Linked DNA regions of Homo sapiens. The protein of the gene in region 1 purifies or fractionates together with the protein of each later gene. This does not show direct contact. Each region holds a gene or a part of one and is shown in the gene's direction. Other genes may lie near its edges.

What was found.
Region 2: the proteins of APOOL (region 1) and DNAJC11 purify together in Homo sapiens (affinity purification with mass spectrometry; one large-scale study listed by BioGRID and IntAct). This does not show direct contact.
Region 3: the proteins of APOOL (region 1) and SFXN1 purify together in Homo sapiens (affinity purification with mass spectrometry, with the first as the bait; one large-scale study listed by BioGRID). This does not show direct contact.

The regions. Positions count from the first base shown.
Region 1 is NC_000023.11:85,073,357-85,077,090, forward strand, and holds part of APOOL (MICOS complex subunit MIC27 precursor), read left to right. Parts: intron 1-641; coding exon 642-755; intron 756-917; coding exon 918-1,035; coding exon of another isoform or gene 1,036-1,044; intron 1,045-3,734. UniProt on the Homo sapiens protein: Component of the MICOS complex, a large protein complex of the mitochondrial inner membrane that plays crucial roles in the maintenance of crista junctions, inner membrane architecture, and formation of contact sites to the outer membrane.
Region 2 is NC_000001.11:6,695,169-6,698,902, reverse strand, and holds part of DNAJC11 (dnaJ homolog subfamily C member 11), read left to right. Parts: intron 1-3,734.
Region 3 is NC_000005.10:175,509,560-175,513,059, forward strand, and holds part of SFXN1 (sideroflexin-1), read left to right. Parts: intron 1-549; coding exon 550-648; intron 649-1,891; coding exon 1,892-1,967; intron 1,968-2,551; coding exon 2,552-2,637; intron 2,638-3,500. UniProt on the Homo sapiens protein: Amino acid transporter importing serine, an essential substrate of the mitochondrial branch of the one-carbon pathway, into mitochondria.

The DNA.
Region 1 (3,734 bases):
ATTTTCAAAGAGAAATAGAGATGAATGAAAATAACGGTAACTTTAGGAATTCAGCCAGCATCCTGGCCTCTGCTTGAGTATATTTATCAGTCATTGTTTATTTTACCTTTCTACCAAAAAAGAATATTATTCTTTGGAGGAATTAGTTGATGCCTTTTATTTCTTTATGAATGGAGAAAGCACCATCAAATTTTAAGCAAAAGCATTAACTTTGTAGCATGTTAAAAATCTCATTTTCTCAGTCAGCAGTTTATTATCTCAAACTATATTCCCCAAACTCCTGTTAATAGACACAGTTTTCACTTATATCAAATCACCGTGTTATATACCTTAAATAGATACAATTTTATATATGTCAATCTAATCTCACTAAAGCTGAAAAAAATTAAAAAAATAGACATAGTTTTAAATTTATGTTACAATGTGAATGCAGATTATACATTTCTTATAACCTTTGCATGACACAAAAAATTTTTCATATAAGATTTTAGAAATGGTGCTTTGTGTTATATGATTTAGAGATTTATATCTTTATTGATTCTGACTTGAGTGTTCATATAAAATACCTGACAAATCTAAAATACATTTTTAATTTTAACTTTTAAAAATATGTTATTTGACTTACTTTTTGTTTTAATTAGGTAACAGCAAAAAAGGTATATGCTACAAGCCAGCAAATTTTTGGAGCAGTTAAATCATTGTGGACAAAAAGCAGCAAAGAAGAGTCACTCCCTAAACCTAAAGAAAAAACTAAGGTAGAGTTTACATGGAGCAAGACGGTCAACATTGAGTTTTGTTTGGGTGGGTGTTGGCTTGTAATGAGGGTACTGGACAGAGGTCGAGGATAAAATGAGAAAGTAGATGAAGGAAATAGTAAAATGATTTACTTATGAAGGAAAAATCTGTTTGGTAAACAGCTAGGATCCTCTTCCGAAATAGAAGTACCTGCAAAAACAACTCACGTCTTGAAACACTCAGTGCCCTTGCCAACAGAACTCAGCTCTGAAGCAAAGACCAAATCAGAATCCACTTCAGGTTTGTTGGGTATAAGTCAATTTTGTTTTCATTCTTTTCTTAAATAATTTGATAGCATTATCATTAGTGGTTTGAACTTAAGATGTGTTCTCCCCATAAATATTTTGTCTTTCTCATATCTGTGGTTTCTGTTTCTTTTTAGGTTATGAGGTACTTAAGTATCTGCAATTGCTTTAAATTATCACATAGTTCATAATATAGATCTTTTAATGTGAGTATATAGAGTAACACTGACAGGTTGATTAGGTGAAGCATTTAATATAACTTTATAAATTTGAGCTATTAGGTGGGGGAAAATGGGCCTTTCTAGATTCTGTAATTTTAAAGGGATGAGTCACACCTACATAAAGAAATGTCAGCTTCCATTTTTTGTGCTATTTACCTATCAGTCTCCCTGTCAATCTTAAGACTTTTATTTTTATTAAGTTTAGTTTTACTAAGTTTAGGCACCAAAAGAACTTTCAGCATCAAATATTAGAAATATTATCCATTATAATACTTATAACATTGCTAGTATTCCATACTGGCAATAAACACTTTGTGGGACCAAGCAGTGACAATTATACTTTCTAAACAAATACTGCTGTGATTTTACTGTGATCAAAAAGAAGGTGACAAAGTGTTTAATACCATTTTGACAATGTATTCATATTGATTTGCATAGGTTTATCTATATAGATACCTATATAGATATCTATATAATTACAATGTGAATTATAAAACCCGCTAAGTTGTCTTATTGCAAAGGAAGGTGGCTAATTCAGCGGTTGGGGAATAATAATAATATGCACCCTTTATCGAGCACATACTGTGATGCAGAGAGCTAGAAGTATATTATGTTATTCAGCCCTTACCCACAAAGCAAAACAAAAACCTCTGCTGGATCGGTAATTATTCCCATTTTATGATGAAGAGACTGAGACTCAGGGAGCTAAAATAAGTTGCCCCAAATCATATAGCTTGTGAGTAGCAGAGTTCTGTTTATGGCCTAGATCTTCTTGACATCAAAGTCTAAGTTCTTTCCATTGTCTATAGATTATCTAATTTAAAACTGGAAGTTAGTCTCTAATTTCAGCCTCCTCCTCTCACTTAATCTTCATAAAAACTGTCATTGAATAACAAACATGATATGAGTTTTACTATTTTCCTCTGTCCTCTCTCTTTTCTAATCAAGAGGAGCTATACAGTTTTTAGACTCTGAATAATCTACCAGTGACCATATTCTCACAAGAATATAATGTATGGTCATTTTTCCACATGCCTTTTAATTCCAGAGTATCTTTATGAAGATGAAACATACTACAGCTTAACAGTGGGACCAAAACCTTTCCAAGCTAATGTCTTTTCCTCACACATCTAGATTCTGGAACCCTTTATTTGCCTGTCTTGGGTGATGTGGTATATGAAAAGCATTCTATGGAGACAATGCAGAGGGAGAAAGAGATGCCAGTGCTACTTACTCATTCTTATCATAGATGTCTTGGTCAGTTTGAGCTGCTGTAAAAAATACCATAGACTGGGTGGCTTATAAACAACAGAAATTTATTTCTCACAGTTCTAGAGACTGAAATTCTGAGATCAGGGTGCCAACATGGTCAGGTTCTGGTGAAGACCCTCTTCTGGCTTGTAGACAGCCTACTTCTCATTGTATTCTCACATGGCAGAGAAGAGAGGGAAGCAGGCTCTCTCAAGATTCATAAGGGCACTACTGATCCCATTCACAAAGGCTGTACCCTCATCACTTCCTCTAATTCTAACCACTTCCTAAAGCTCTCCATCTCCTAATACCATCACAATGGGGGAGATAGGGTCTCAACATGTGAATTTTGGGGGGACACCAACACGCAGTACATAACAATATATCATTTGGCGTTTATTATACAGTATAACCTTGGGATTCACCATTTCCACGTTTCATATGTAGAATAAAACATTTTTTTTTTTTTGGCCATGAGAAACAGTAGTGATTGTGAGCACAGGTTATAGAATAAGACTTGAATCGAAATCCCAGATCCAGCATTTACTAGTTCTGTTACCTGGGGCAAGTTATCAAACACCTCAAGCCTCAGTCTCCTCATTCAACAAAAAGGGGACAATAATAGTTCTCACATGGTTGTGAGGATTAAGTGAGATATTGCATGTAAAGCACTAACTGTAATGCCAGGGACATACTAAGGGGTATCAGTGGATATTAAAATATATCATTATTATTATTTGCCTAGAGCAGTTAGCCATTTTGATGAGAAACAGATTTTCATTGAGCATACTTAAAGAGCAAGTCACTTACCTAGTGAGCCTAGCCATGGCTATAACTTATCACCATACAGAACAGGTAGGGTGTACTGTCCAACTATATGTTGTGGCTCTGAATATGAGTTTGGTTGTTCTCTACCATCTCATGTACATTAATGGAGAAAATTGCTATTTTGGGAATCACAAATTTAGAATTTGGTGTCATAGACCTCTTCAAGAATCTGATGAAAGCAGAATGAAATCTCTCACAGTCTTGCAAGATTAATGTCCCTCTAAAGCAGAAGTTGACAAACTATGGCCTGTATGCCAACTCTGACTATGTTTTTTTTTAGGTGATAAATTTGCTAAACTTATATATATATATATATATATACGTATATATATGTATGTATATATATACGTATATGTATATACACGTATATATATATATACATATATATATATAT
Region 2 (3,734 bases), on another chromosome or scaffold:
GGTGCAGTCGTGGCTCATAGCAGCCTCGACCTTCCCCGGCTCAGGTGATCCTCCCACCTCAGCCACCAGAGTAGCTGGTATTACAGGCACACACCACCACAGCTGGCTGATTTTTGTAGTTTTTGTAGAGACAGGGTCTCACTGTGTTGCCCAGGCTGGTCTCAAACTCCTGAGCTCAAGCAGTCCACCCATCTCAGCCTCCCAAAGTGCTGGGATTACAGGCATGAGCCACTGCACCCAGCCAAAAAATATTTCTTAAATTTTTTTTTTTTTTTTACTTCTCCCAATGAGTGAAGGCACTTTCCATATTTATGGCTATATGGCTATAGGTTAAATCCATATGAAACATGCTCCCTTGCAGAAGTCACTTTCTGTTGTCTTCGTCAGCAAACTCGGTGTTAAATGTCATACTCAGGTGTGGTGTGCTGGTTTTCCATCCCGGGATTCCATTAGAAGCTCTGAAGGTGATGTCTGAACTTGATATTTGCTGGAATTTTTTGTGTGAAATCAAACGTGAAGTTGAAATAACGTGATTTAGTTGGAAAAAAGTCAGAGTAATCTTAAATCTTAATGTGTGGTTGGAAGAATATCTTAATACCTGTTTGTGTGTTTGCTGTCAGTTCTAGAGTAGTTGCCATTTAAGTATAGCTGTGAGAGGCAAGGCCCTGTTCCCACTGATACTTCAAAGTACCTTCAAAAGAGTGTCCTCAAAACTCTCAATGTTCAGTAGAGTTCAGAGAGTTTTCTTTAGAAATCTCAAATGGAAACAATTCTAGACAAAACCAGGGAATCCTACTTTAAAATTATAAGCATAGGCTGGGCGCGTGGCTCAAGCCTGTAATCCCAGCACTTTGGGAGGCCAAGACGGGCGGATCACGAGGTCAGGAGATGGAGACCATCCTGACTAACACGGTGAAACCCCGTCTGTACTAAAAATACAAAAAATTAGCCGGGCGTGGTGGCGGGCGCCTGTAGGAGGCTGAGGCAGGAGAATGGTGTGAACCCAGGAGGCGGAGCTTGCAGTGAGCCGAGATTGCGCCACTGCACTCCAGCCTGGGTGACAGAGCAAGACTCTGTCTCAAAAAAAAAAAAATTATAAGCATAATAGAGGTATATAATTGGATTAATATAGAAATGTCAACAATCAGCTGAAGAATCTCCCTCTCCAGGATTTAAACTTTAAAATATCCCCTTAAATTTGTATTCTAGAGCAGGGGTCCTCAACCCCCTGGCCATGGACCAGTACTGGTCTGTGGCTTGTTAGGAATTGGGCCGCACAGCAGGAGGTGAGTGGTGGGCAAGCAAGCGGTTAGCGTCGGGCAAGCAAGCGGTTAGCATCGGGCAAGCAAGCATCACCGCCTGAGCTCTGCCTGTCAGATTGGTGGTGGCATTAGCTTCTCATAGGAGCATGAACCCTATTGGGAACTGCACATGCAAGGGATCTAGGTTAGGTCCTCTTTATGAGAATTTGACTAATGCCTGATGATCCCAGGTGGAACAGTTTCATTCCACTCCCACTAGTCTGTGGAAAAATTATCTTCCATGAAACCAGTCCGTGGTGCTAAAAGGTTGGAGACCCCATTGTTGCCGCCGTTGGAGAGAGTGAAGCAGGCAGCTGGAAAGGACCCCCCGTTCTCCTATGACAAGACACATGATCTTTAATGATTCTCCTTCTAGATTTCCTGTTTACAGAGCAGGGCCATCATCTGTCGTGCCTGCCTCACACTGAGAGGAGGGAGTACTTTATCACTCACTGGGCACACCAAAGCCAGACAGGTTTTCTGGTTTAGTGTTAGATGCATCATCTGGTTCCTAAAATCTCACTCCTCTGAGATTTCCAGGATGATTTTCCAAAATTTATTTGGAGAAAGGATTCCTTAACTATAAATCAGAGTTAAATTTACCTGATCCATTAATTAGGAAATTTAATTGACACATTTCAAACCTAATTTATTCCCAAGACAAATGGCTACAGTTCTAACTTTATCATTGTCTTTGAAAGAATTTCATTTTTGCAGTGTTTGTAACCTGTTTGAAGACCTCTGGTCCCAATTGTTTTAACCTTAAGGAGCCATCCTCCTTTTCAACTTTTAAACACTTTTGGAAAAACACAGTTAAGTAAAAAATGAAGTTGTTAATAAATAGTTTTTTTCTTGCAGTCCATATATGGAGGTCAGTGTTCTGAGATCTTCATCCTTCCAGAACAGCCATGAAACTAGAAGTACAAAAGTATCACCTACCAGTAAAAAGTTTACCCCAAGTCCCTGCATTTTCATTCCTTCTCTGGTACAGGGTAGATCATTATTTTCACAATTGTGTGTTGTTGGGGTTTCCTTAGCTGCAGGTTACAGCCACAGAGTGAGGCCCAACAGTTGAGTTTGAGCTGCAGATGGAAAGGAAGGGCTAGAAGAGTAGAGGAAGGTCCCCTGGTCACTGGCAAGATTGTCCTAGGGTCAAAGTCACCCACAAAGAAGGAGACAGCAGACCCTCCAATCAGGACCACTGACTCAGCCATCTGCAGAAATTGACATGTAAAAGGCTCAACTGTGCCAATTTGAGCGACTCAAATACCTAAAGCAGTGAGGTGGTGTGTGTTTACACATTTATTGCTTTCTTATCAAACTTCATGATGGGCAGTTAATTTTGTCTTAATAAAAAATAAAGATGGCTCTGAAAAGGTCAGTTCCTTCATTTTCCATCTACTACATTATGTTAAAGTTTGATATTTATAATGACTCCAGTTAAATGTGTGCCTCAGGCACATAGAATTAAGCCTCGGTTGTCCAAAAACAACTTATTCAGATGTCTGCATTCCATAGGGTGTTCTGTAAGCCAAGAGGCTGAGAAGCAAGAATTTCAGCCCATGCTGCCTGCCTCTTGTGTGACCTTCAACGAGTCATTTAACCTCAGCCTCTACTTACCTGCAGAATGGAGGCACCAGTACTTCTTAGTTAACAATGGGATAGAGGGAGGCCACTATGTAGGGCTTTGCAGCTGGAGTCCAGTATTCAAATCCCATTTTACTCTTCTGGAAGTTCTATGCTTCAACGCTAGTAATTTAACCTTTCTGTTTCTCAATTTCTTTTTTTTTTTTTGAGATGGAGTCTCACACTGTCACCCTGGCTGGAGTGCAATGGCGCAATCTCAGCTCACTGCAACCTCCACCTCCTAGGTTCATGCAATTCTCCTGCCTCAGCCTCCCAAGTAGCTGGGATTACAGGCACACACCAGTACACCCGGCTAATTTTTTTTTTTTTTTTTTTTTTTTTTTTTTTAGTAGAGATAGGGTTTCACTATGTTGGCCAGACTGGTCTCAAACTCCTGACGTCGTGATCCATCCGCCTCGGCCTCCCAAAGTGCTGGGATTACAGGCATGAGCCACTGCACCTGGCCATCAGTTTCTTTAATGTTAGAATGTAGGTAACAGGTAATAATGGCTTAAGCACTTACTGTAGGCCAGGATGACCTGTGTGGTATGTGCGTTGCTAGGTGCTGAGAATGTATATAAATTGCCTGTCATAAGTAGGTATTTAGTTAATATATATTGTTATTTCTTGGATTTTGATAAGTTTGAAGTTTTGCTTACTTTAAAAAAAGACATAAGGATTGGGGGGTGGCTCACACCTGTAATTCCAGCACCTTAGGAGGCTAAGGCAGGAGGATAACTTAAGTCCAGGAGTTTGAGACCAGCCTGGGTTGGCATAACGTAGCAAGACTCCATCTTTAATTAAAAA
Region 3 (3,500 bases), on another chromosome or scaffold:
TAGTTGTTCAAAAGGAGGTTGAATTTTTTTTCTAAATCTTAGCCCCAAAAGAGAATGAAGTGGAGAAGGAAAATAAAGAGTCTGCAGGCAAATTCTCCTTTGACTCCATTCATATAGATATAGGTATAGGTATAAGTGTAGATATAGGCACATTAAAGGTGTATGTGTAGACATAGACATATAGCATTGCAAGTGCTGTTAGGAGGGCCCAGGACCGCTTAGCCTACAAATTGTATCTTTTTTCCCCAAGAGAAGGGATCTGGCATTTATTGAATGTCTATTCTGTACCAGGCTCTCTACAAATTTTATCTTACTTCATCCTCATAGTAACCCTCTGAGCTTGGTGTTATCTATATCTACGGAATGAGGAAACTGATGATCCCAGAGGATAAAAGCTTGCCCAGCACACAGATCCTAAGCCTGTGTGGCCTTATGGCTTTCTCCCTTCCCCAGTACGTCTCCTCTCTGGTTACTGGTGTTCACGTTTTCTGTTCCATGCCGCGGCTGGGCCCAGTGATGGTGGGTATGTGACGGATGCCTCTGTTTTAGGACTACGCCGGCTGTGCTGTTCTGGCAGTGGATTAACCAGTCCTTCAATGCCGTCGTCAATTACACCAACAGAAGTGGAGACGCACCCCTCACTGTCAAGTAAGGCTACGAGAATTGACCACTCTCTGCAGTTCTTCAACCTTCATTTTATTAAGTGGTGATACTCTCCTGTTTAAAAAAGCCTATGTGTGCATATTTTTATATTGTTCAGAATATTATGTAGCATCCTTTTTTGTAGCTTTTTTCTTTTTTAAAGTAAAGTGTTTCATTTTCTCTCTCCCTATCAAGAAAACAGTCTTCTTCCAGCCTGCCTTCTCAGACATTACTCGTGCCTTTGGAGGTACTGGTAGGATGTTACCTCCTTCTCACCCTGGAGCTCATGGCCCTGTAGAACACATGGCAGGCAGCACCGGCCTGGCCTCTGATAAGTGACAGGCTGTTCCGCCATCTACCCTGCCTGAGTTGACAGACACCAACGTTAAGAGTAGAGGAGACAAAGTGTGGTCTCTGCAGAAATCAAGGGGAGACCATGGCGGTGTGAACTTTATATCTGATATGTTTTTAAAATAGCTCATCTGTGGAGTCCAAAAGAAAGCAATGAGTTTTAATTTTTTGTCACCTGTTAAAAAAAAAATAGGCTCACAAGATTAGTTAACCAAAAACGTTAGTTAGCATAATTGTATTACACTTGAAAGAAAAGTGCTTCTCTTTTTTATCACTTAAAATTGCTTTTGACAACACATATTCTTCTACTATTGTTATATGGAACAAAGGATCTTGAAATCTGCAGCCAAGTGGTGTTTATTGCAATTAAAATTTCTTTTAAAAGAAGAGAGAATTGCTTGGGCTTTATAGTTTTTGGATGATAAGACTTAGTATTTTTATACAGTTAAGATATCATTTTTTAAATGGCAGCACTTCATTTTTGCTTTCAGTGTGTATATTAATATTTTGAGAAATATTTTTAAGCAAATATGCCCCAAACATTTAGCCCAATATGCATTCCCCTGTATTCATAGCTTCCTACACACAGCTCCCCTCCTTCTCACGAATACAAAGTCTGTATGTTTATTTATTTATTTTAACCAACTCACTTCAAAGAATACATGTCTACTTTTTTGGAGTTATAGTCAAGATACGTGTGAAGAATCCCATTGTTTATGGATCTGCTTGCTTTTTCTCTAGATTCCCCTACTTGTGGAGTGATAGTGAATGTTGTTTTGTAGACTCTTCATTCTGAATCATGCTCTTTTATATTTCCCTTTTATTTCTTCAAATAATGTTGCACCAGAGTTTCCTGACATGCCCTCGTCGTCCACACGATATCCTTTTTTCTTTTCAGTGAGTTGGGAACAGCTTACGTTTCTGCAACAACTGGTGCCGTAGCAACAGCTCTAGGACTCAATGCATTGACCAAGGTACTCAGATTTTTATTTCCATAATAAAGCTGTTTAATTTGTTATCACCTGCCTGGCTCTAAATCCCTCTATTATTTCTTAAACTAGTTCAAGTCATATGGCTTTCTTGTTATAGTGCTTATCTTCAGCTGCATATTTTAGTTATATCTTCCAATAAGTTTGGGAAGAGTTGTCACCAGTAACACCTACCAGGACTGTGGTCTGTGCCTGACTCTGTGTACGAAGTGCTAAATGTTCACCCATCCTGACAGCCCACCAGAGGCATTGCAGAGGGCAGTGTGCCTCAGGCCACAGCTCTGAAGAGAGGCAAGAGCATCTCTCTCTCTCTCTCTCTCTCCCCACTCCAAAGCCCATACTCCTGCAACCACACTTAGCTACAAGGCCTTAGAAGCTTGCATGGTCCCAGCACACCCATGTGGGAAATATACAAATACTGCTAGGAAAAGTTTTGAAAGCATTCTTGGCCTGAGTTTCTATGCAAATGGGACTCTGCATTTTTCAGAGTTTTCAAGAAGAAATAAGTTATTTCCATTTACTAGTACAGGAAAAATAAGATAAAGCTCTTGAAATTTTCTCCTCTGCAGCATGTCTCACCACTGATAGGACGTTTTGTTCCCTTTGCTGCCGTAGCTGCTGCTAATTGCATTAATATTCCATTAATGAGGCAAAGGTAAGACGAATATGCACTCTTAGTAGGGACATGTGCTTGACAGGAGAGTCTCTTGTAATAATTAGCTTTGTTGAAACTTTCAAATGCTTGTTTTAATATGTATAGGTGAAATTATATGAGATCTTGGATTTCTTTTGAAATACTCTGGGGTTGGGGATGAGGATGGGCGTCTTGAGAAAACAAGCTTAGCGATGAGTTACTGATTATTGAAGCAGACTGAGGAGTGCGGGGAGGGGGCTGATGCTGGAATAGTCTTTCTATGTCCGTATAATAAAAAGTTTAAAAGATATATCTCAAGCTTACATTGAGTTGTGCTTGGGTTGGACAAAGTCTATCCAAAGAAAGTTTATTCTCTAAAATAGATTCCTTTTTTTTCTCCAGAATTTTCTTTTGGGGCTTAAAGTACATTATTCTATATCTTTGGAAGTATTGTTGTAGAACTGGCAAAAATTAAAGGAGAAGAAAGAACAACAAAAGCATTTTGGAATGGATAACGAAAAACAGGGGTAACGGTAGAAGTTATACTTAGTGTTAGTAAATATAGTTAATAAATATACAGTAGGGCCATGTGCGAGTGACTGTTTCCATGTCAGCATATTAAGTTTGTTGACTTAATAATGCTGTGTATTATATCTGTTTCTCATTTGGAAAGTTGCTCAAATTTGCACATGAGCATAGATTGAAGTTAGTGTGTCCACCCTTTGAATCATATTGTTCCTGAAAAAGGTACACCCTGTTTTAAAAGTTTACTAGTGTTGTTTTACTTTTATTTCTATCAAAGGAGGATTAAACTTATCCATGGTATTTAAAAATAGATGTGTCTGCTGGGCGCAGTGGCTCACACCTGTAATCTCAGCACTTTG